Linked DNA regions of Homo sapiens. The protein of the gene in region 1 interacts with the protein of each later gene in a biochemical or structural test. Each region holds a gene or a part of one and is shown on either strand. Other genes may lie near its edges.

Region 1 (12,910 bases):
AGGTTACCAAAATAAACCTAACAGAATACTTAAGAAAAAGTGGAAGACTCTGCTTTTAATATCTTCCTGACTATAAATTCAGCTGTAATAAACTCCACTGTAACTGCCACAAGAAGGCCAATTGCAAGTGGAAGCTAACATAACTTTTCTAATGGAGCTACAATAAATTTAACTAAATAAAATTCTAGTGTACTTGCTCTATTTCACATCCTCTTGCTTCTTTTTTGGAGATACTATATTAAATGTAAAGTAGGTGGTGACTCAGCAGGATGATGAACAGGCAAGGGGGTGACGTGCAAATGTGCTTTGGCAGCAACTGGTCCCCAGGAACATGGGCACTGGGGGTGGGAAGCAGGAGCTGCACAGGGGGCATCACTGGTCTGCCCGCCAGCACCTAAAGATATGAGGCACTGAAGTGTCAGGTGGAGGAGAGGACCAGTATGGTTGGTTGCAAGTTGGTTATAATGAGCAAATATGTAAATGTGTTGAAGATAATGTTAGCCAAGATTCCCCTTGTTGAAGGTTACTTATTTACTTTATTATTTTAAAATTTATTTTAATGTTTTTAAATAAAAAATTTTTGGTTTTTTTTTAAATAGAAATGAAGAAGGTTATTTAAAAGCAAGGTGGGCTCAAGACATTATCTGATAGGAAGGAAGGCTAGAAAGAACCCTCAGGTGTTGGGCCAACATTAGAAGTACTGTTATAAACTCATGGCATTTAAGTTTATATACACAGCAGACATAAAAATAGTTTTTAAAAGTGTTACATATGTGTGTATATATACACAGACACATTCATGTATGCGTGTAAAACACACATATATAACACTGCTCAACTCTCTCTACTAAGAGGGCACAGGAGCAATAAGCACAATGAGCAGCCAGCTTTTGGTTTCTAAATACTATTTTCCACGAAAGGAACCAAGTTGCCCGGAGAAATGACAATTCCAGGTTGGAGCATGAACTGTAAAAGATAAACCTGGGTCATCTTATGCCAGAAGATTAGGAAGCACTCAACACTAGAAATACCAAAAGGACACAGGAGCCACTTCAAAGAGTTCCCCACTGGGAACTCTGGCCAAATCAGAGACAATATCAGCACCAAATTAATGTTAGCAATGGAATATAACCTGTTAGTAAACTAAGAATCTAGATTCCATGTTAACATAAATGAATAAATACATGGGGAGAGAAGGGAAAGCGCTCCTTACAGAATACTAACTAATAAATGCAGTAGGAGCGAAGAAGACAAGAACTACTCCTTGGCATCCTTCACAGAGGTAGCTGATTCAGGGGGAAGTTATCAATGAAGGCCAAGGCTTGTGGGTTTACTGGAAAACAGGATACTGATATAACACTGGAATATGCCCCCACAAAATACTGATTAATACAAAGGGAACTATTGTGACTTTACAGTAGAAAACCTGGCATTCAGCAACATCACCCATGATGGTATACTGTCTACAAAAAGTGCCTCCTGAGGCCACACAGAGCTGGGCATAGCATCATTTCTGTGGCACTCCTGCTAAGGCATGACCCAACTATTCCTGATGAAACATCAGACAGACCCAGGTTATGCAAGGTCAGACCCCACCTCTAGAAAAAACAAAAAAAATTAGTCAGGTGTAGTAGTGCACACCTATGGTTCTAGCTATATGGGAGGCTGAGCTGGGAGAATCACCTGAGCCCAGAAGGCTGAGGCTGCAGTAAGCAATGATCATACTACTGCACTCCAGCCTCAGCAGCAGAGCGAATCTCTGACTCAAAAAAAAAAAGAAAAAAAAAAAAAAAGCCATGCCAGACATGGTGGCTCATGCCTATAATCCTAGCACTTTGGGAGGCTGAGGTGGGTGGCTCACTTGAGGCTAGGAATTTGAGACCAGTCTGGCACACATGGTGAAACCCTGTCTCTACTAAAAATACAAAAATTAGCTGGGTGTGGTAGTGTGGGCCTGTAGTCCTGGCTACCTGGGAGGCTGAGGCATGAGAACTGCTTGAACCCAGAGGGTGGAGGTTGCCACTGCACTCCAGCCTGGGCGACAGAGCAAGACTCTGTCTTAAAGAAAAAAAAAAAAAGGAAAAAAAAGAATACATATGAAATTATTTGTAATGAAAAGCATACATGTTTCAGTTCAAAAAGATGAAATTCAATGGAATTGATAAGATGGTCATTAAATAGTGTTTTAAAAGTCATTCTGATTCAAATCCAATTGTGTATTATTTTCTAGAGGTGTGAGTTGAGAAATCTTCTCAACTTTTTATATTTCATAACTTATATTCTTTCTTCTCTTTTAGAAGGAGGGCTTCCTAAAAGTAGCATCAGTACCCGATCATACTGTGGGCCGTGAATTAAGCATGTAGCCTGGGCTGCCACTGACTGCAAGGTGACTTTCCTTTCCTGGCCTGCATCTCCTACAAAGAGCCAGGTATTTTTTTCTAGTGAGCTTTTTGGTCCCACCACAGTGCTAGCCTGTAAGCCTTCTGGAGGATGGGCCCAGCTTAACAGGTCAGGTCCTGAGAAAGAGGCAGAAAGGCCTTTCCTCATGGGTGAGAGGTAAATCAGATGTCCAAGGTTATTACCGTATGTTCCAAGGCTGCTGATAATTTGAGGCAGAAAGATCAGCAACAAGAGATTACCAGCTGTTATATTTTTATGAAAACTGTTTCTTACTTAAAACTTTCAAGTATCTCCAAGAGCATTCATCACCGGGAATGATGTATTTCTAATGCCTGGCATTTGAAGAATTTCCATTATACTTGCTAAGTAGTCTCTATAAAGCTGTCTTTGAGTTTGATTAGTGTACCTTAATCCACAGAGCATAATGACTCTGGATGAATTGATGGCCTCAAAAATAGAAGATTTGTTGTAATTTCTGGACCTGGCACACGTAAGGACTAAATAAATCTTAACTACTGACTTGAATTGTAAAGCAGAAGACCCAACCTGGATTGTAGTAATCCCACTAAGATACTGCTCTCCTTAGAGCCCTAAGCAGCCACCTGAATTCTTATCCTCATACCTCTGAATATAGCAATCATCACTATGATGCCTAAGTCATCTTTCTATTGCAGCACCTGACACTCGGGCGGCTGAAATAAATGCTGAATATAAGATTCTTAGCAATATCTGAAGTACAAGTAGCAATTCCTCTTTTGCAAAGGGACTGTGAATCAGCTTCATTTTCAAGTAGTAAAATGGAAAGGAAGCCCTTTCTGAAAGGTTAAAAGGGGATCACAGAAATAATATGTGACTTGCCTAAGGCCACACAGCTGAGTTTTGTAAAAGCACACAGATATGCTGTCTATAAGGTCACTACTCTTTTAAATTCTGACTCAGGAACCTGTTGGGGGGAAAACATATCAAACAATTTCGTTGTATCATATATGAAAGACTAGAGATCACCATCAGACACTGTCACATGAGTATGATCAGAGGGAAATATAGGCTCTTCAGTTTCCAGAATAGTCCTCTATCTCCACGAATCTATATTAATGTTAAAGTGTCTGAACAGAACATCAGTTGTTCTAGTGACTTTAGACTACTTAAATACCTTAATGAGGGAGATTCAATGAAATCATGTTCTATGCCAACTGGTAGCATAGTAGAAAGGCTCTCATGTCATACAGATGTGCGGTAGAATTCTAAGGCTGCCATTTACTGGCTATGTGATTTTTTTTAGGCCACTACTGAGACTCTGAGACAGGGTCTCATTCTGTCACCCGGATTGGAGTGCAGTGGTACGATCATGGCTCACTGCAGCCTCCACCTCCTGGACTCAGCCTCCAGAATAGCTGGGACTACAGGAGTGCCCCACCATGCCTGGCTAATTTTTTGTATTTTTAGTAGAGATGGGGTTTCGCCATGTTGCCCAGACTGGTCTTGAACTTCTGGGCTCAAGCGATTTGCCTGTCTCAACCTCCTGAAGTACTTGGATTACTGATGTCAACCACCACAACCAGCCAAGACTCAATTTTCTACTTGAATAAGTGAGGATAACAAGACATACCTCAGGGGGCTGCTAGAAGGCTTAAATTAAAAAAAAAAAAAATTTAAATTATTCTGACATTTGTTAAAATGGTAAAGAAAGGCTTTATTTAGGATAATTGCGATAGTAATCAACATAATGGTAGCCACACGCATGTAATCCCAGCACTTTGGGAGGCCAAGGCGGGCAGATCACTTGATGTCAGGAGTTCGAGACCAGCCTCCAAGGTAAAACCTCATCTCTACTGAAAATACAGAAATTAGCCGGGTATGGTGGTGCACTCCTGTAATCCCAGCTACTTGGGAAGCTGAGGCACGAGAATTGCTTGAATCTGGGAGGCAGAGGTTGCAGTGAGCCGAGATCATGCCACTGCACTCCAGCCTGGGCGACAGAGTGAGACTCTGTCTCAAAAGAGAAAAAAAAAAAGATAATGGCAATGGAGAGAAATTTTGCTCAACTTCAAATATAGCAAAGACAGCTGAAGATAGCCAATGGGCAAAATTCAGGGGGCGTGGTCAGTGGATGGAAAATTACTAAGGGGAGACATCCAGCATGGGGGGATTGTTGCTATACCAACAGTATTCTTGCTGAGGGCAGGCCAGAGCGATCAGATACGAAGGGTGGGAAGATCTTGCTACATGGACTTAGCAGGATTCTGGCTAAAAAAAAAAAAAAACACCTGTAATCCCAGCACTTTGGGAGGCTGAGGTGGGAAAACTGTTTGTACCCAGGCATTCCAGACCAGTGTGGGCAACAAGGTGAGATCCCTGTCTCTACAAAAAATAAAAAAATCAGGCAGGTATGGTGGTGCATAGCTGTGGTCCCAGCTATTCAGGAGGCTAAGGTAGGAGGATTGCTTGAGCCAGGGAAGTTGAGGCTGCAGTGAGCTGTGATTGTACCATTGCACTCCAGCCTGGGTGACAAAGTGAGACCCAGTCTCAAAATAAACCTCCCAAAACCCAAAAAACAAAACAAAAAAAACACCCAAGAACCACCCCGCCACCACCAAAAAAAAACCAACAAACAAAAAAACTAATGGACTTAGAAGGATTCTTGTTAAAACTGGACCAGACAGGTTGAAGACAAGTCCCAAATGACAAGGCCTAATCAAAAGGAGAGCTCACTCAGAGCCTGTGTAAAGTCTGGTTAAGGAGAGTCTCTGTCAGTACAAAATGTAGAACAATTAGTGGTGGCACTTAATAAGTCATCTAAGGGAGGAGACCACCCCTCATATTGTCTTATGCCCAATTTCTGCCTCCAAAGAAAGAAGTAAAAACTAAAAGGCAGAAATGAAATCCATAAGCAGACAGCCCGGCGCCACACCCTGGGCCTGGTAGTTACTGATCCACCCCTGACCTAATCGGTTATTTGCATAAAAAAGGCACTGGGCCGGGCACAGTGGCTCACGCCTGTAATCCCAGCACTTTGGGAGGCCAAGGCGGGTGGATCAGAGGTCAGGAGACAGAGACCATCCTGGCTAACACAGTGAAACCCCGTCTCTATTAAATACACAAAAAATTAGCTGGACATTGTGGCGGGCGCCTGTATTCCCAGCTACTTGGTGGGCTGAGGCAGGAGAATGGCGTGAACCCAGGGGGTGGAGCTTGCAGTGAGCAGAGATCTCGCCACTGCACTCTGGCCTGGGCAACAAAGCGAGACTCTGTCTCAAAAAAAAAAAAAAAAAAAAAGACACCGTGAAGACCCCTGTCCAGTTCGGTTCCTTTCTAATTAGTGGTGTACGCAGCCCCCAGTCACGTACCCCTTGCTTGCTCAATCAATCACGATCCTCTCATGCAGACCCCCTTAGAGTTGTGAGCCCTTAAAAGGGACAGGAATTGCTCGCTCGGGTTGCTCGGCTCTTGAGACAGGAGTCTTGCCGATGCTCCTGGCCGAATAAACCCCTTCCTTCTTTAACCTGGTGTCTGAGGGGTTTTGTCTGCGGTTCTTCCTGCTACAGTCAATCGATCCAAGGGATTTAGTCAATTCTAGTGGATACTTTTAGTCCTCATTTTGCTTGATATTTTGGCAGCTTTCCAATGTTGATTACACCTTCACTGAAACACTTGGTGACAGTGTACTTAGGCTTGTCTGTTTCCTAGTTAATCCATCTCTTCTTGTCTTTAAAAAGTGCTGGAATTCCTCAAAGGTGGGTCCCCCTCCCCCACCCTTCATTCATGGGTTCAATCACTATCTAAGGCTAAATGGCTCAAGTTTTTAAAACTAGCCCAGACTTCTCCAGCGCTCCAAATCAATATATCTAACTGCTTATACCATCTACTCTTGGTTATCTCATAGATACCCCCAAATCAAAATGTATAAAATCAAACTCATAATCTCTTCTCCGTTGACCCAAAATAAAATTCATGATTCTCCAGTGATCCCTACCTCAGTGAAAGGCAGCAATACAATTCAGTCCCCACCCCCAGCAAGTTTTCTCCCATCTTTCTTTCTTTCTCCATTTCTGCTGCCATTTATCCTAATCCAAGTCACTATAATCTCTTGCCTAAACAATGGTCTTAAGTGGTTCTCTTCCTCCAAACAATCCTCCACACTGCCGCCTGAGTAGTATTTTAAATATGCAAATCTGATCATGTCATTCCCCAGCTTAAGGTTTTCCTATAGTCTACAAAGTCCTGCGGGTTTTGACCCTGCCTACTGTGCACACCCTATCTTCTTTCTTTCCCAGTTTTTTTTCTTTTCTTTCTTTTCTTTTCTTTTTTTTTTTCGGGACAGAGTCTTGCTCTGTCATCCAGGCACGACAATGGCTAACTGCAGCCTGGATCTCCTGGGCTCAAGAGAGCATCTGGCCCAAGCCTCCAGAGTAGCTGGGACTACAAGCATGTGCCACCACAGCTGGCTAATTTTAAAAAAAAATTTCAGTACAGATGAGGTGTTGTTATGTTGCCCAGGCTAGTCTCCAACTTCCGGGCTCAAGTGATCCTCACTCCTCGGCCTCCTAAAGTGGTGGGATTACAGGTGTGCACCACCGTGCCCTCCCTCCCAGCCATTTTGTTCAGTTTCCCAGGCTTTCTTTTGCTCCCTCAAGGCCTTTACTGAGTTCAGCCTGCAGAGAACGCTTTCTCCCACTGAAACTCACCCCAATTTATCCCCCTTAGACCTCTTTCCAAAAGCTACTTCCTCAAAGAAACCTCTGTGACCCTTGGAAAGTTATTTGTTTTCACAGCATCCTGCACTTCTCTCTCATAGCACTTATAACTATAATCAACCAAGTAATAATGTAACCAGTTATCTTAATATTGATCTTCTCTGCTAGGAAGTAAACTCAATACATGTAAGGACAGAATGTCTTGTACCTCAGTGCCTACCAGCATACTTGATATACAAGAGCACAAAAAACATTTTCTGAATGATTGTATGACTACATGCATGCCTGACTAAAAAGGCGACAATACTTTTTACATTAAATTTAACAAGTTTAACTTCTTTTTGCGTTTTCAAATTACTCCACAAAATTACACGAGAAAAATGAATTCCTTCAAACTTAAATCCTACTATATTAAACTATATTAAAAGTCTATCACATAAAATTCACTTCCACAAGGATTTAACTCTAACAAAATAAGCATGTGAGATTAAATATACCCGTTATAGAGATGAAAAAAAGGTTCAAGTGGTTTAACTCACGCATTTAATATAAAGGAAACAATTCCTAGAATTCAAGTCTCTTGGCGGTATTATTCCTGCATACTAGCTATTTTTCATGTGGGGCAATTTTTACCTGATTCAAAGATTTCCCCAAAATAAAGATATCACAAAAACTGATGTAAATATGGTTAAGTCTTTTATCTCAACTAGTTTGAAGTTTTAATTATGTGCATTTGGGCTTAAGTAGATTTTTAGGTTTAAAAAAAGACGTTAACCAAAGCAAGTCACTCAACTTTAAACTTTCACTTTATGACATCATATCTACTAGAGATTTCATTTTACATGTCGCTTTCCCCCAATTTTTAAATGTCCCCTCGATTTACAAATATGAGATGACATATAGCACCTACGACATTTTTTCATAGCAGCCTACCAAGTAGATGTAGTCCTTCACATAAAAATAATGGCAGTGGGCGACCACTCCGTCATGTCTGAGGGTTTTGTTTTTCTTAAACATCACCGTGCCCAAGGGTCAGATGTTCTGGCTGCTTTCAGGGATCAATTACAACCACGTTTGCAATACCTACATTTCTGGGTAATGACTGTGCTAGAACATGAAGAGATTCTCTTTTCTACTTACTCCACAAATGCCCTGGAGCAAAGGCACAGTATCTTACAATCCTCCCGCTCCTCAATGAAGAGAAACATTTCCGCCACGCGGCTCCACTTCTCGCAGCACATTTTACCACTTCGGAGGCAGCTCTGACGTACGCAGCCCGGGTCGCGCCTGCCGGGCCTCCGCTCGGTTACTGGAGACTTAAAACAGGCCTCGCCCGCAAGCCCTGGATGAGGAGATAGAAACTGGCCCGCGGCCGCTCGCGCCGGGAACTAGCCCGGACGCTGCCGCCGGAAGTGGCTCCGAGGGGCCACGGGAAGGGGCGGGACCACGGGCGGTGTCACCCCCATCGCGGCCCGGGCTGCAGCCGCCGCTTGGCTTCTTTCACACGGGTTGCTTCGGAGGAATCCGCCGTGCAAATCTGTCCGCCCCCTTGGCCACTGATCCCCCGAAGAGCTTCTGTCGCCGCTCTAGGGTAAAGGAGAGCTGCCCCTGCCCCTGCCCCCGCCTATCCGAGGTGCGTCGGCCCCCGCGCTTCTCCAGCCCGGCATCGGGTCTGGCGGGACTGGGAGCGGCGGAGGCCGCGCGCGTCCGGTCTCCCAGGAGCCGCCTCGGAATCCCCAGTCTCTTCGCGGGCAGGCTCGGCTTCCCGCCGGCCTCAGTGTTGCGCCCCAGCGCCAGAGTGGCCGGGTGTGGAGATCCTCCCTCCTCTGGGTCAAAGAGCCTGCTCTCCCCGCCCCTCTTCTCCCCTGGCGCTCTAAACCTTCGGTTCGGCGCGTTTCATCCTAATGCATCTGGTGGGGCGAGGCGTCTCTAGCCTCTGTAGAGGCCTCTAGGCTTGCCCAGTGGCTTCGCTGGTTCCGGGACCCAGGTCGAGCCTCCGGTGTAAAAGCCAAGGGGAAGTGTGTGGTGATCCCGAGAGTGTAGGGGGAAAGCCGCGTGGGTAGAGCGTTCGTATCCAGACCGATCAGGCTTGGAATCCTGGTCCTACCTTGTGACCTGGGCAGGCAACTTCACCTTTCTGAGCTTACCTTTGATCACCTGTGAAATGGGGTTGATTAATAGTAACTACTACATGAGGCTGCAGGGAGGACTAAACGAAATGATGTATATTACACCTTTCCTTTGTGCGCTTAATCGTTGGCGTCGGTTTGGACCTTGTAGGCGTTAAGTGCTGTCTCGGTCCCTGGGGTTTGCAGCCTGTAAAACAGGTCTCTGCCTTCAAGTTACTAATTATCTAATAAGAAAAAAGTTCATGTGGGCATAAATAGGATGGAGAAAATGGAAACAGCAGCGTTGCTGGATCTGTTAAAAAGCAGTTAGTATTTGGTGTGTGGTATTCATGGAGGCTGCACGGGCAACTTCTTCAGAGACAAGCTCAGACTTGAAAGTTGGAGCGCTTCGGACGTGGTTGGTGCTACGAAATGCCAAAATAGTATTGGTACTTCTTCAGAACTATATAAAAACTGAGCTAAAATTCATGCATTTTGAATGGTATTTTCAATAGTATTTTGGCCACATTTACTAGTTAGTGGAAATATTCATTTTCAAATGTTTATTCCCACCTCCTTACTGCTGCCCTACTTTGAGGTCGGAGATAGGCTGATTTTGTTGGTTCAAGAAGGTAAGAGTGCTGCACGGTTACAGATATACCAGTATAGATGTGCAGCATTATTGGGATGAGTAGCTGGGTTACGATAATAAGGGTAGAACAGTAATTATGAAACAGAGTGGAAGATTTTAGCTAGAAGTTGGGCATTCTAGGATTAAAGAAAAGTCTTGAAGGGTAATTTGTATCAGAACCTCGAGTTTAAAGCTTGAAATAAAAAAAGTATTAAAGCTAAAAGGATTAGATTTACCAGCTATCTTGACAAATACTAAATTGCAGCTTTATTCATGGTTTGAAGTAGAAGTCCTATTCAGTAAAACAGTGCTGTATCTCTGTTAAACCATTATTAAATATGCAGAAAGGAAACAGGAAAACTTGTTTTTCAGTGACTATATCTTTTAATTGGCATTTTCAGAATGTTCTCAATGTGACTTATATACTAAAAGTAAAATGGAAAAGTACTGGTAATGGGTGTTCAAAATAGATATACTTTATTTATTTATTTATTTATTTTTTTTGAGACAGGATCTTGCTCTGTCACCCAGGCTGTAGTGTAGTGGCGCGATCGCGGCTCACAGCAACCTCTACCTCCCAGGCTCAAGCAATCCTCCTACCTCAGCCCCCCGAGTAGCTGGGGCTACAGGCATGCCACCATGCCTGCCTAATTTTGTGTGTGTGTGTGTGTGTGTGTGTTTTGTAGAGACAAGGTTTTGCCATATTGCCCAGACTGGTCTTGAATTCTTGGGTTCAAGTGATTTGCCTGCCTCAGCCTCCCAAAGTGTTAGGATTATAGGCATGAGCCACTGAGCCCAGCCTAAAATAGATACACTTTCTTAAGGTTTTATTGAAAGCCAAAAAGTTCTCTGTTCTGATTTATTAGTTTTTGAAATACTCTGATTTTAAACATCTGTAAGGTCCATATCCTCACCATCAATGTCAATATGGTGATATTTGAGCTTGTCAACTTTTTTTTTTTTTTGGAGACGGAGATTCATTTTTGTTGCCTAGGCTGGAGTGCAATGGTGCGATCTTGGCTCACCGCAACTTCCGCCTCCTGGGTTCAAGCGATTTTCTGCCTCAGCCTCCTGAGTAGCTGGGTTTACAGGCATGCGCCACCACACCTGGATAATTTTGTATTTTTTGTAGAAACAGGGTTTCTCCACATTGGTCAGGCTGGTCTCGAACTCCCGACCTCAGGTGATCCTCCTGCCGCTGCTTCGCAAAGTGCTGGGATTACAGGCATGAGCCACCGCGCGTGGCCTTGTCTACTTGTTTTTACAAAAGTTACGTGATTTCCAGATAGGGAAATTAAGATACTTTATATGTGATGCATTAGACTGTGTTTATTTTAGATTTTTAGGAGCAGGGGGCTGTAGAAAATAACCTGGAATTTTGAGAACTAAAATATTGTATTTCCCCCAAAACATCTTCTAGTACATAGAGTTCCCCCCTGCCCCCGAGACAGGGTCTTGCTCAGTTGCCCAGGCTGGAGTATAGTGGTGTGATCATTATAGCTTACTGCAGTCTTCACTCCACGGGCTCAAGCAGTCCTCCTGCCTTGGCCTTCCAAGTAGCTGCAACTTACAGGAACGTGCCACCATGCCTGGCGAACCTTTTTTTGGTAGAGACAAGGTCTCAGTATGTTGCCCCCAGGCTGGTCTCAAACTCCTGAACTCAAGCAGTCCTTCCACCTTGGCCTCGAAAACTGTTGGAATCACAGGCGTGAGCCACCCTGGCCCATGTCATTTTTCTTGGATTAAAATAAAGTGATAAGAAGTCAGTTACACCCCCAGGTAAATTCAGGGGGAAGGGGAAGGGCCAGGCAGAAGTATAGGGAAGACAGAAATTGCAATCTTAATATTTTCTTTCTGTCAAGAGAGAAAAAGAGAGATATATCAAAGAAAGTGTGTTGGAAGCCAGACCAGGAGGTAAGATGACTAGATTTTAATTTTAGTTCTTGGCTTTTACTGAATTAATTTAGTAATTTTAAGCAAGCAAACTTGGCTTTCTGTGTTTACTTTTTTTGTTATCTGCACAATTAAGGGGTTGCATTGAGATTTAAAGACACTTTGTCATATTATCAAAAGTAAGTGCTACATTTTATCTACTGAAAGGCATTTTATTCAAATTCCTCTGATAGTTCTCTAGTAGCAGGTTTTAGGATACTGTTTTGATCCAGATTTCTGTTAAAGATTTAGATGAGGCCAAGCAGGGTGGCTCACGCCTGCAATCCGAGCACTTTGGAAGGTGGAGGCGGGCGGATCACTTGAGGCCAGGAGTTCCAGACAAGCCTGGCCAACATGGCAAAACCCCATCTCTACTAAAAATACAAAAATTAGCTGGGTGCAGTGGTGCTTGCCTGTAGTCCCAGCTACACGGGAGGCTGAGGTATGAGAACTGCTTGAGCCTGGGAGGTGGAGGTTGCAGTGAGCTGAAATCGAGCCACTGCAGTCCAGCCTGGGTGACAGAGTGAGACTCTGTCTCAAAAAAAAAAAGTTTTAGACGAACACAGTTCAGTTGTATATTTAGCCAGCATTTGTTAGGTGCCTACTATGTGCCAGAAAGTAAGTGTTTTTCGTATGTTTTCTTAGATAACTATTTTATTTACTGATATATTTAGAATAGTATCTGGCACAAACTTCTCAGGGCCATCCACTTGTACATTGTATCCTGTCCCCTTTGGCCTAGTCAAGGACAGAGCTCTAACAATTATCTCCTCTCCTACATCATCTGTTTCTCACTCCCATTGATGAATTATCGTTGACATTGAACATGGGTGTATTTTCTCCTATCTTTTTTTTTTTTTTTTTTTGAGATGGGATTCTCATTCTGTCCCTGAGGCTGGAGTGCACTGTCAGAATCTCGGCTTATATAACCTCTGCCTCCCGGGTTCAAGCAATTCTAGTGCCTCAGCCTCCCAAGTAGCTGAGACTACAGGTATGCACCATGATGCCTGGCTAATTTTTGTGTTTTTAGTAGAGACGGCATTACCATGTTGGCCAGGCTGGTCTCAAACTCCTGACCTGAAGTGATCCACCCGCCTTGGCCTCCCAAAGTGCTGGGATTACAGGCATGAACCACTGTGCCTGGC
Region 2 (12,508 bases), on another chromosome or scaffold:
ATTATTAAAACACCATTAGCGTTCAATGAGCAGTTTTATAATAAAGTGGGATGGCATGTACTTTTAAGACTCACAAAATCCACAGTTCTAAAGAAGTGAGTATAAGTTGTGTTAAAAAAAAAATTCAAACTAACCTTTAACTTTAATCTTGGCTTTTTTGGCTTTCTTTTCAGTAATTTCATCCTCTTTATCTACCTGTTCTATTTTGCGTTTTTTAGAACAGGTTGGAAGTGTGGAGTCACCAGAAGGATCGTAAGTCTTCACTTCACTGAAAGACCCAAAAAGTTTTAGAAAATCTCTAACAAGTATCTGGAATTGAAATAATTCTCAAGAGATAAAGAAAATGCCATTAGATAATACTTACATAAGCACACAATGTTGTTTCATTTTAGTGGCTTTGGGGTAGTTTATGAAGACTAATAGTTTCCAAAAGTTAAAGGTATTAATATTTTTCAAGTAGGTCAATCACATTCAAGAGATGTGGTGAGCTAAATGAATTCTGATTTAGTAATCAATGTAGTTACTATGGTACAGGAAAACACTCAATCAGCATGGGGGAAATGAAAGGAGAAAACGTCTTCACACCTAACTAGAAAGTGAAAACTGAACCATCCAACTTTCAGAACACTGCTCAATGGGGGAAAAAAAAAAAAAAAAAAGCAGAACAAAAAATCTAAACCAAGCTTAGTATAGAAGTCTTCATCACAAGATCACAAGAACAAGAAAGGATACAAATACATGCACATGGAAAAGATTCCATAGAACCCAACATTTGCTTTTGTTCTAATGTAAGCAGAAAGAAAATACTGAAATGAGTGCCTAAAATGTGAATGGATGCTTTAAGTGCATATGTTTAAAGTAAAAAGTACTAATTGCACAGGAACATTAAAAAAATTGGTTCAAAACAAGCTAAAAAATGTTCTGTTTTTTAAGCAGACCTGTAAGCTGAATGACTATTTAATTTTTTTAGGTTAAAGACATTTATAATTTAAGAAACAAAGAACCATGTTTGTCAACTAGAGATAATAAGTTATAGACTATAAATATTGCAGAATGTATGGCTATTGTAGAAAGCTTGGAAAATTCACAAAAAAGAAAATGTGAATGCCCACAGAAACACATTTGATTTCTTTCCAGAAAACACTAAATTATACTTAAATATGTATTTATAATTGGTAATGTTCTATATATTAATTACTCTCCTCATCCACTTATAAGATTTTACTATTAAAATTCTTGAAGGAGGCCGGGTGCTGTGGCTCACGCCTGTAATCCCAGCACTTTGGGAGGCCAAGGCGGGCGGATCACGAGGTCAGGAGATCAAGACCATCCTGGCCAACATGATGAAACCCCGACTCTACTAAAAATACAAAAATTAGCTGGATGTGGTGGTGTATGCCTGTAATCCTAGCTACTCGGGAGGCTGAGGCAGGAGCATAACTTGAACCGGGGAGTCAGAGGTTGCAGTGAGCCGCAATCGTGCCACTGCACTCCAGCCTGGCAACAGAGACAGACTGTCTCAAAAAAAAAAAAAAAAAAAAAAAAAAAATCTTGAAGGATTATGACTCCTGAAAGTATAATTTATTGGGTTAATGACTAGGAACATTTTGAAGAATCTTGATACATACTGTGAAATGGCTTCCTAGAACAGCTGTGCCACATTCTACCTGCATCATCACAACCTCACCAGCATTGAGCATTGCCTCAAATAATAACCCAAATACCCCTCCACATACAAATCTTTTGTTAATCTGATAGTTAAGTTTGAATGCTTTGTCATGCCTCAGCCATCTTTAGACTTGTTTTCTGTCTTTATACTTTTTACAAAATAGGTTTCTGTAGGGATTAACTCTGAATGAACTTTTTTTGAGACGGAGTTTTGCTCTTGTTGCCCAGGCTGGAGTGCAGGGGCGCGATCTCAGCTCACTGCACCCTCCGCCTCCCGGGTTTCAAGCAATTCTCCTGCCTCAGCCAGGTGCCCGCCACCACACCCAGTTAATTTTTTGTATTTTTAGTAGAGATGGGGTTTCACCATGTTGGCCAGGCCTGTGTTGAACTCCTGACCTCAGGTGATCTGCCTGCCTCAGCCTCCCAAAGTGCTGGGATTACAGGCATGAGCCACTGTGCCCGGCTGAGTGAACTTTTTGATAAAGAACATATTATAGAGGAACTTTAGATTAAAAAAATTTACTATCAATATCTGGAAATGAATAAATTAAATATGTATATGAATGAAAACTAGTAGAAGTTAATGCGGAAAACTAAATGGCATGGAAAAAAATTAGGGGTGCACAACATGGTTAACTACAGCTAACAATGTATTATATTCTTGAAAATTGCTAAGTAGATTTTAAGGTGTCCTCACCACAAAAAAAGTACATAAGACAATGCATGTTAATGAGCTTGACTTAATCATTCCTCAATGTGCACATTTTCCAAAACAACATACACACAATAAACATACACAATTTTGGTCAAATAAATAAATTTGAAAAAACTATGGGCACATCAAGGTGAAGTTTACAATAAAAAATTACTGTCAATAATTAACATTTAAAAAAACTATTCACCCCATCCTCACTTAAATGTACTCACCTTTTGTGTTCATATTTTTCTGTTTTTGCTAATGCTTTTCCTGTTCCACTTATTTTTCTTATCTAAGAAGAAAACGAAAAATTACAAATACACTTCTAAGTCATAATCTCTTTATAATACACTATACAGTCTAGTGAATCAGTGGGCCAGCAAACAGCAATTTCTGCTATTTTTTGTTTTGTTATTTTGAATAGCATATCCTAATGGCAAATGCAGTTGGATACATCAATTCTTGGTAAATAATAGCAATTGTTAACAGTAGGCACAAAAAGAATACTTTAGACATACTAATAAGTATCATAAAACTGTTTAGCAGATGAAGTTAATAAATTTACTCAGTTTATTAACTTTTGACAAGTAATACTTCTGGAATAGGCATGATGTAGTTCTTACCCCTCTGTCTTCCAAAGTTCTCAACCTGGCCTCTAATTTGGCTCTGTTCTCAACTCCCATTGCAGAACTTGAATCCTCACCAAAAGCATCATAACGGATAGCCAAAACGGTTTTGGCTGCCAGCATTCGAGAAATCTAATAGAAAAACATGAAGAACTATATTCCATGTTCAGATGTAAAATCCTCAATAACTTGGATGTTTTAAAATCAGGAGTTATAAAACTATTATGAATCATACAATTCAAATCATCCATCGTATTTCAACCTTTGCCACAATCTAATGGCCATATATCACCACCAACACTTCTGTGGCTGAAAAGATTTTACAGCAATTCATGTCAAATATTAGCTCAAACTAGGTTTTTTTAAAAAATATTTTTAAACTTTAGTTTCTACTCAGTGACATTAGTTCTGTGCTATGAGGTCACTGAAAAGAAGTGCATCTTTTTCCTCGTAACAATCTTAAATATGTGCGGGTTCTGGCCGAGCGCGGTGGCTCACGCCTGTAATCCCAGCACTTTGGGAGGCCGAGGCGAGTGGATCACGAGGTCAGGAGATCGAGACCATCCTGGCTAACACGGTGAAACCCTGTCTCTACTAAAAATACAAAAAATTAGCCAGGTGTGGTGCCGGGCGCCTGTAGTCCCAGCTACACTGGAGGCTGAGGCAGGAGAATGGCGTGAACCTGGGAGGCAGAGCTTGCAGTGAGCCGGGATGGCACCACTGCACTCCAGTCTGGGCGACAGAGTGAGACTCCATCTCAAAAAACAAACAAACAAACAAACAAACAAACAAAAAAAAGCGTGGGTTCTTTTTCAATCTAATTAACATTTTATTTTATTGAACGCTTTATTTTCCTCCACCACTCTGCTCTAAATTTTATCAATTTTCAGTTTAGATCTGTTAAACGACACATCTTTCAAAAACATTGAAAGTACTTAACTTGTCTAAGCCTCAGTTTCATCATCTGCAAGATAGAGATACCTACATCTCATAAGGCTACTGAAGATTTAGGACAGGCACAGGTGCTCACACCTGTAATCCCAGCACTCTGGGAAGCCGAGGTGGGTGGATCAGGAGGTCAGGAGTTTGAGACCAGCCTGGCCAACATGGTGAAACTGGTCTTTACTTAAAATACAAAAATTAGCCGGGCGTGGTGGCACGTGCATGTAATCCCAGCTACTCAGAAGGCTGAGGCAGGGAGGCAGGAGAATCGTTTGAACCAGGGAGCTGGAGGTTGCAGTGAGCCGAGATCAAGCCACTGCACTCTAGCCTGGCGACAGAGCGGGACTCCATCTCAAAAAAAAAAAGTTTAGTGACTTCTCTCAAAGTGTTTTAGCATAATGCATATGCTATTTTTTATGATTCGTAAATGTTAGATTTTTTTTTTGCTGCCAGAGATAGTATTTTCAGTGTGCCAACCACAGGGAGATTCTAGGGGGGAAAAAAATACTAACACAATGGAAGAAACTGGCTTTAATCCAACCAATAACAGTTTCTTCTAACCTTATCCTTCAGTGTACACAAAGCACTTTTTATTTAAATAACTCACCATTCCCTATTTAACAAGAAAGAGACAATAGAAGATTTAATGTGTACTACAGAGTAGAAGAAAAATGGGTTGTAAAAAATGAAAAAGTCTAACCTCAAAAACAAAGCAAAACCCTATAACACACCTTTCCTTTGTGTTTGGGACTTGTCTGGCCCACGAGTGAAGCATGATAAATGAGACCATACTTAGGGGTATCCCGTCTAGATTTGAGGGCTCTGAAAAGTGCCTTTTCAGCTCCAAGAATCTGAACGGTAGAAGCTGCATGCTTGGCCAAATTTAAAAGAGAACCTACAAAAGAAAAAAGTTACAAAGAATGCACCTCCAAATATATGAATGTTCCACGTACTGAAACAAAAGACCTATAGAATTATTACAGCCACCATAATAAATAAAAATCACATATAATATAGAATTCTATAATCCAGAATTCCCTAAAAATCTTGATGTTTCATTTGTAATTCCTTCATTAGCACAAGCAGGTTTGCAATGAATGCCTAGGACAAACTGAAGGCTAAGCTTATTAAGTTCAATGTTTCTATTCACCTGAGAGATGGCAGTACTATTCTAAATTCCATTAGTATACTACAGGAGTGACATAAATGTCACACACACGAACACTAATCTGGTCCCTGCTTTCTGAGATTGTATCAAATATTCTATTGCTTTAGATATGAAAAAGCCTACAAATAAACACATTTATTAGGAAGAGATATTCCTACAAGTATCTATTAATAGTCCCCTACCTGTGCTTTCACTTTGTGTGGTAAATTACCTGTGGTTAACTGCAGTCTGAAAATATTAAAAAGGAAATTCCAGAAATAAATAGTTCCTAAGTTTTAAATCTCTTGCTATCCCACTCAGCTCCCCCCAGGACATGAATCATCTCTATCTACCCATTAGTCACTTTCGTAGCCCTCTCCGTTGTGCAGTACTGCAGTGCTTATATTCAAGTAACCAATGCACAAAAATAGTTATGCTTGCATTTTTTTTTTTTTTTGAGATAGAGTTTCGCTCTGTTGCGCAGGCTGGAGTGCAGTGGCGCGATCTTGGCTCACTGCATCCTCCGCCTCCCGGGTTTAAGCAATTCTCTGCCTCAGCCTCCGAGTAGCTGGGATTACAGGCACCCACCACTACACCCAGCTAATTTTTTTTTGTATTTTTAGTAGAGATGGGGTTTCACCATCTTGGCCAGGCTGATCTTGAACTCCTGACCTCGTGATCCACCCTCCTCAGCTTCCCAAAGTGCTGGGATTACAGGCGTAAGCCACCACACCCGGCCCTGCTGGCATAGTGTTATAACTGTTATATTATGACTGTTGTTGATATCCTACTGTACCTAATTTATAAGCTAAGCTTTATTATAGATATGTATGTTTAGGAAAAAACAGCATATACAGTATAGGATTCAGTACTATCCTCTGTTTCAAACATTCTTGGAGGGGGGAGCTTAGAATACATCTCCATAAATAGCTGGGGACTATTGTTATCAACATGCTGCTTAGTTGGATATGCTGTATAGAATATTTCCTGTCAGAAAACAGACTCTATTAATACTATGAACTTAAGCACTAGACATAGTTTTAAAAGTGTAACAAATACATAGTTCTTTTTTTTTTTTTTTTTTTGAGATGGAGTTTCACTCTTGTCACCCAGGCAAGCAATGTCACCACTGCTGTGTGCAATGTCACAATCTTGGCTCACTGCAACCTCCACCTCCCGGGTTCAAGCAATTCTCCTGCCTCAGCATCCCGAGTAGCTGGGATTACAGGCTCATGCCACCAAGGTTGGGTAATTTTTGTGTTGTTAATAGAGATGGGGTTTTATTTACCATGTTGGCCAGGCTGGTCTCGAACTCCTGACCTCAGGTGACCCACCCACCTCAGCTTCTCAAAGTGCTGGGATTACAGGCGTGAGCCACCACGCCTGGCCAACAAATACATACTTCTATTAACCCCTGCCATTGCTTACTGCTACAAGTTTAGCTATACCTATGAAAATGGGTAGAGACAATGAAATCATCTGATCTTATAGCTGAGGGCATTTGAATGAAACCTTTGATTAATGATGCAGCTAAAGGAGTTACGCCAGGCCGGGCGCAGTGGCTCACGCCTGTAATCCCAACACTTTGGGAGGCTGAGGTGCGCAGATCACCTGAGGTCAGGAGTTTGAGACCAGCCTGGCCAACATGGCAAAAACCCTGTCTCAACTAAAAATATAAAAATTAGCCAGGCATGGTGGCAGCACATGCCTGTAATCCCAGCAACTTGGGAGCCTGAGGCAGGAGAATTGCTTGAACCTGGGAGGCAGAGGTTGCAGTGAGCCACTGCACTCCAGCCAGTGCAACAGAGTGAAACTCTGTCTCAAACAAAAAAAAAGGAGTTATGCCATTTTAAACACTCTGATGCAGATGATATAATCTTTTTTGATGAATTATAACAATGTCTCCAAGTAACATAAAAATGATGAATCAGTACTTCATTGTATTTGTAGGTATTCAATTACATAGCATTTTAATTATAGCATATCATCCTTATAATACTGCCATACACATATACAAAGTTTTATTATAAATCAGTTGTTGAAAATATTTTTGAAAGTCAAATATATTACATCCTCACACTCAATAGTGAAACTAAGGTAATCAATCAAGGGCACAAATCCTCTACAGTGATTTCTTTTTTTTTTCTTTCTCTACAGTGATTTCTTAAAACTGTATTCAAATCTAGGTCTAGTGAGTTTTTATTATGAAAATGTTAACTGTTTTATCCTCCTGCATTCATCCGATTGTTCTAATTAACCCTAACAAACTTCTAACAATGGACCACAAGTGTCTCAGAAGAGGTAGTGACTAAAGATGCCTTCATTATCCAAAAGGAAATCAGGCAAACAAATAGAAATCATCATTGAACACTTGGCCCTTAGTGATCTCCCACATATCATCTACTTTTGTGTTATCAGCTAAAATTTCTTTAACAGCTGTAGTTTAAAGATGTAAACAAAATCCTAACCAGAAAATACTTCAAACACTCATATTTACAAATTACATTAAAACCATCACCTGCATGAGCAATAAGCCGTGCTCCAACTAATTCCCCAACCATGACTGTAACATTGGGTGCAATGGCCATCATTCGATTTTGTAGATATTCATAGAGCTGGGTTCGATATTCAGAGATTTCAATCACCTAGTATAAGGAATAAAGTTAAGTCACAAATATCATATGAGTAAAAACAGTAAAAATTCCTGTCTAAAACACTGGAGCCCTCAATTATGAAAGAGCAGCTACACAACCCTGGGTACTGGGTACATCACCTATGCCTAACATCAGTTTTCTTTTTTTTTTTTCCCAGGCTGGAGCGCAGTGGCGCAATCTCAGCTCACAGCAATCTCCGCCTCCCGGGCTCAAGTGATTCTCCTGCCTCAGCCTCTGGAGTAGCTGGGACTACAGGGGCCCGCCACCACGCCCAGCTAATTTTTTGTATTTTTAGTAGAGACAGGGTTTCACCATGTTGGCCAGTATGGTCTCTATCTCTTGACCTCATGATCCTAACATCAGTTTTCTATAAGATGGCTGTAATGAGGACTTCGTTATATAATGTATGTAAACTACTTGGTCCACTGCCTGAAAATCTTAGTCAGCGTAACTGTATTTTTAAAAGATTCTAAGCAGCCCAGGCACAGTGACTCACACCTGTAATTCCAGCACTTTGGGAGGTCGAGGCAGGTGGATCATGAGGTCAGGAGTTCAAGACCATCCTGGCCAACATGGTGAAACCCCGTCTCTATGAAAAATACAAAAATTAGCTGGGCATGGTGGCACGTGCTTGTAATCCCAGCTACTCGGGAGGCTGAGGCAGGAGAACCGCTTGAACTGGGACCTGGGAGGCAGAGGTAGCAGTGAGCCTGAGAACGTGCCACTGCACTCCAGCCTGGGCTACAGGGTGAGACTCTGTCTCAAAAAAAAAAAAAAAAAAAAAAAAAAAAAAAAAAAAGATTCTGAGCAATAAACATTTGTATCATGCTCTTTTTAATTCCTATATGGCTACCTTCAAATCTGAAAGAAAAAAAAATCACAAGATATAGACATAAGACTCAGAATTAAAAGGCTCAATCCATAATTGTCTGCCATCCTTTTTTTTTTTTTTTTTTTTTTTGAGATGGAGTTTTGCTCTTGTTGCCCAGGCTGGATGCAATGGTGCCATCTCGGCTCACTGCAACCTCCCCCTCCCTGGTTCAAGCGATTCTCCTGTCTCAGCCTCCCGAGTAGCTGGGATTACAGGTGTACGCCACCACGCGCAGCTAATTTTTGCATTTTTAGTAGAGATGGGGGTTTCATCATATTGGTCAGGCTGGTCTCGAACTCCTGACCTCAGGTCAATCCCTGACTCGGCCTTCCAAAGTGCGGGGATTACAGGCGTGAGCCAACGCGCCTGGCCTTCTCTGCCATCTTAATTGATTTTTGGTTAATTCATTATTCAGACGATGATTGTAAATTACTTCCTTTTAATATGTATTTCCCCCTTTTAAGTATACAAATCATGATGGCATCAGATGAGGTAGTGACTGAACACCCTCATATTTATGTTATCAGGTGAACAACAATAAGTGTAAAAATCATCATTGCCATCAGAAAAATTAGTACTATAGAGCTGGTAACACCACAACTAGATTCTCCAGGAGTAAAATTTACCTGGGTGCAAAGATGCAGAATATTGCAAATATCTTCTTCTGAAACCTCTGTTCCCATTGATATCTCTGCAGCTGCTTTCACTTCTGCTTCAACTTCTTCTGGCAGCAACTCAGAAAGCTTGGCAGAGGCATAGTTCTTCCTATCGCCTATGGAATGTTTGCAGAGGATGAGGGAGAATCACTCTTCAACAAATTATATAAAATCCAGCAAATAGTCAAAAGAAAAAGTAGAAAGCCAATGAAAAGGATGCCTAAACAAAACAAAAAAAATGAAGAAGTTTGACCTAGTATAACAGTTTTCCTCATTTAAGGGTTTAAGTTTAGACATTAAATGTCTCCCCACCACCTTCTTCCAAAAAATAATCAGAGTAAAAAGAGGACAAAATATGCCACAACACTTATTACAGAATATAAGTGGCAAAAATTTAAAAAAGACAGGACTAATAATAATGTCACAGACAATTTTATACTGAAGCTGGGGCCAGTAATTCGTAAGGCAAGTAAACCATCAATCAATCAAGTTCCTCTGTACGTTAACGACAATCAACAATCAAGTTCCTCTGTATATTAACAGTACAGACGGCAATACTGCTATTTAGCATTAGGTACTAATATCATGTTATAGGCCATCAAAATCTAAGTTAAAATTCATTTTGTTTCTTAAATTTAAGACACTAAACTGCTACACTTCCCAAATACACAGAAATTGCAAAAACCCTGGGAATCTTGCTTAACAAAATGCTATACGTCATGTTTTAGGATGCAATCAAATTCATTTACTTTCAATGCCTTAAAGGATGAACAAATTACTCACCAACTTTCTGTAAACACTTGCAGTATGTTAAATTATCTGAAATAATTTTTCCTAATTCAGGGAAATGCCAGCCATACCATTCTCTACATCGCATAATGTAGTTGTTTAGTTCTTTATCCAAGTCATCTAACAAGGCTGTAGTAGATTAAAAACAAACAAACAAAACTTAAAGGGATTTATTGTGGTAAAACATACACAACATAAAATTTAACACTTCAGGCTGGGCACGGTGGCTCATGTCTGTAATCCCAGCAGACAGGCATATCACGAAGTCAGAAGTTCAAGACCAGCCTGGCCAACATGGTGAAACCCCATCTCTATTAAAAATACAAAAATTAGCCAGGCATGGTGGTGCACACCTGTAGTCCCAGCTACTCTGGAGGGCTGAGGCAGAAGAATCACTTGAACACAGGAGGTGGAGGTTGTAGTGAGCCGAGATCGTGCTACTGCATTCCAGCCTGGGTGACAGAGCAAGATTCCGTCGCAAAAAATTTAAAAAAAAAAGAATAAAAAATAACACTTCAACCATTTTCAAGTGTACTATTCAGTAGCATTAAGTATTCTTATGATGTTATGCAACCATTACCAGGATCTATTGCCAGAGCAATTTTATCATCAGAAACTGAAAAATTCTGTACCCATTAAACAGTAACTCATTCCCACCTTCCCCCCAACCTCTAGTTATCTTTATACTTCTGTCTCTGAGTTCACCTATTTTAGGTACTTCATATAAGCAGAATCATGCAGTATTTTGTGACTATTTCACTTAGCATATTTTCAAGGTTTATCATGTTGAAATATGTATCAGAATTTCATTTCTTTTTAAGGCTGACTAACATTCCACTGTGTGAAGTGGCTGGGTGTACGTTACCCAAAATGCTTGGGACCAGAAGTATTTCAGAGTATTTGCAAACACGTATGAGGCTGAGGATGGAACTCGAAGTCTAAATAGGAAATGCATCTACATTTCACATATACCTTATATACAAAACCTTGAAGGTAATTTTACACAATATTTTAAATAATTTTGTGCATAAAACAAAGTTTTGACGTGTGGTCAGGTGTGGAGTTTTCCACTTGTGGATTTGTGTGGTACCACAAAAAGTTTTAGATTTCAGAGCATTTTGAATTTCAGATTAGGGACATTCAAGCTGCATCCACAATGCAGTTTATCCATTCATCTGTTAAAAGGTATCTGGGTTGTTTCCACTGTTTGGTTTTGTAAATAACACTGTTATGAACATAGGTGTACAAGCAACTCAGTTCTGTTTTTAATTCTTTTGGGTATAAATCTAGGAAAGGAATCGCTGGTTGAGCGCTTTTTTTTTTCTTTTTTTGGAGACAGAGTCTAACTCCATCACCCAGGATGGAGTGCAGTGGTGCGATCTCAGCTCACTGCAACCTCTGCTTCCTGGGTTCAAGTGATTCTCCTTCCTCAGCCTCCTAAGTGGCTGGGACTATAGGCACACGCCACCTCGACTGGCTACTTTTTTGTATTTTTAGTAAAGACAGGGTTTCGCCATGTTAGCCAGGCTGCTCTCAAACTCCCGAGCTCAGGCAATTCACCCGCCTTGGCCTCCCAATGTGCTAGGATTACAGGTGTGAGCCACTGCGCCCAGCCGAATACTTTGTTTTTTTTTTTGAGACGGAGTGTTGCTCATGTTGTCCAAGCTAGAGTGAAATGGTGCGATCTCGGCCCACTGCAACCTCCGCCTCTCAGGTTCAAGTGATTCTCCTGCCTCAGCCTCCTGAATAGCTGAGATTACAGGCGCCTACCATCATGCTCAGATAATTTTTTTATTTTTTACTAAAGATCGGGTTTCACCATGTTGGCCTGATCTCGAACTCCTGACCTCAGGTGATCCACCAGCCTCTGCCTCCCAAAGTGTTGGGATTACAGGCGTGAGCCACGGCCGAATGCATTTCTAAAATAGAAAAACGATTAAGATTTTGATTTTTTTTTTTTTTTTTTAGTGAGATGGAGATTTGCTCTTGTTGCCCAGGCTGGAGTGCAATGGCACGATCAACTCACTACAACCTCTGCCTCCAGGGTTCAAGTGATTCTCCTGCCTCAGCCTCCCGAGTAGCTGAGATTACAGGCATGCACCACCATGCCTGGTTAATTTTGTATTTTTAGTAGAGACGGGATTTCTCCATGTTGGTCAGGCTGGTCTCAAATTCCCGACCTCAGGTGATCCTCCCGCCTCAGCCTCTCAAAGTGCTGGGATTACAGGCATGAGCCACTGTGCCTGGCAGCTTTTGAGCTTTCTAAAAACCATTTAATGACACAGCAGAATACACAACTACAAAGATTGCACTTATGTTTTTAACATTTTCATGGAAAAATACAAATGAATTAATTAACGTAATGTTAATTCTGTGATTCATATAATCTCCAAATAGTCAACCTCCGCCTCCTGGGTTCAAGCAATTATCCTGCCTCAGCCTCCTGAGTAGCTGGGAT

The links.
Region 2: the proteins of TGS1 (region 1) and NOP58 form a complex in vitro, tested with the Homo sapiens proteins (one study listed by IntAct).

Annotation. Positions count from the first base shown.
Region 1 is NC_000008.11:55,769,044-55,781,953, reverse strand, and holds the start of TGS1 (trimethylguanosine synthase), read right to left. Parts: upstream 8,509-12,910; 5' UTR 8,336-8,508; coding exon 8,235-8,335; intron 1-8,234. UniProt on the Homo sapiens protein: Catalyzes the 2 serial methylation steps for the conversion of the 7-monomethylguanosine (m(7)G) caps of snRNAs and snoRNAs to a 2,2,7-trimethylguanosine (m(2,2,7)G) cap structure.
Region 2 is NC_000002.12:202,287,994-202,300,501, reverse strand, and holds part of NOP58 (nucleolar protein 58), read right to left. Parts: intron 10,180-12,508; coding exon 10,045-10,179; intron 9,378-10,044; coding exon 9,232-9,377; intron 9,186-9,231; exon of another isoform or gene 9,074-9,185; intron 7,726-9,073; coding exon 7,599-7,725; intron 7,452-7,598; exon of another isoform or gene 7,368-7,451; intron 4,829-7,367; coding exon 4,665-4,828; intron 3,124-4,664; coding exon 2,989-3,123; intron 2,658-2,988; coding exon 2,596-2,657; intron 269-2,595; coding exon 135-268; intron 1-134. UniProt on the Homo sapiens protein: Required for the biogenesis of box C/D snoRNAs such as U3, U8 and U14 snoRNAs. Part of the small subunit (SSU) processome, first precursor of the small eukaryotic ribosomal subunit.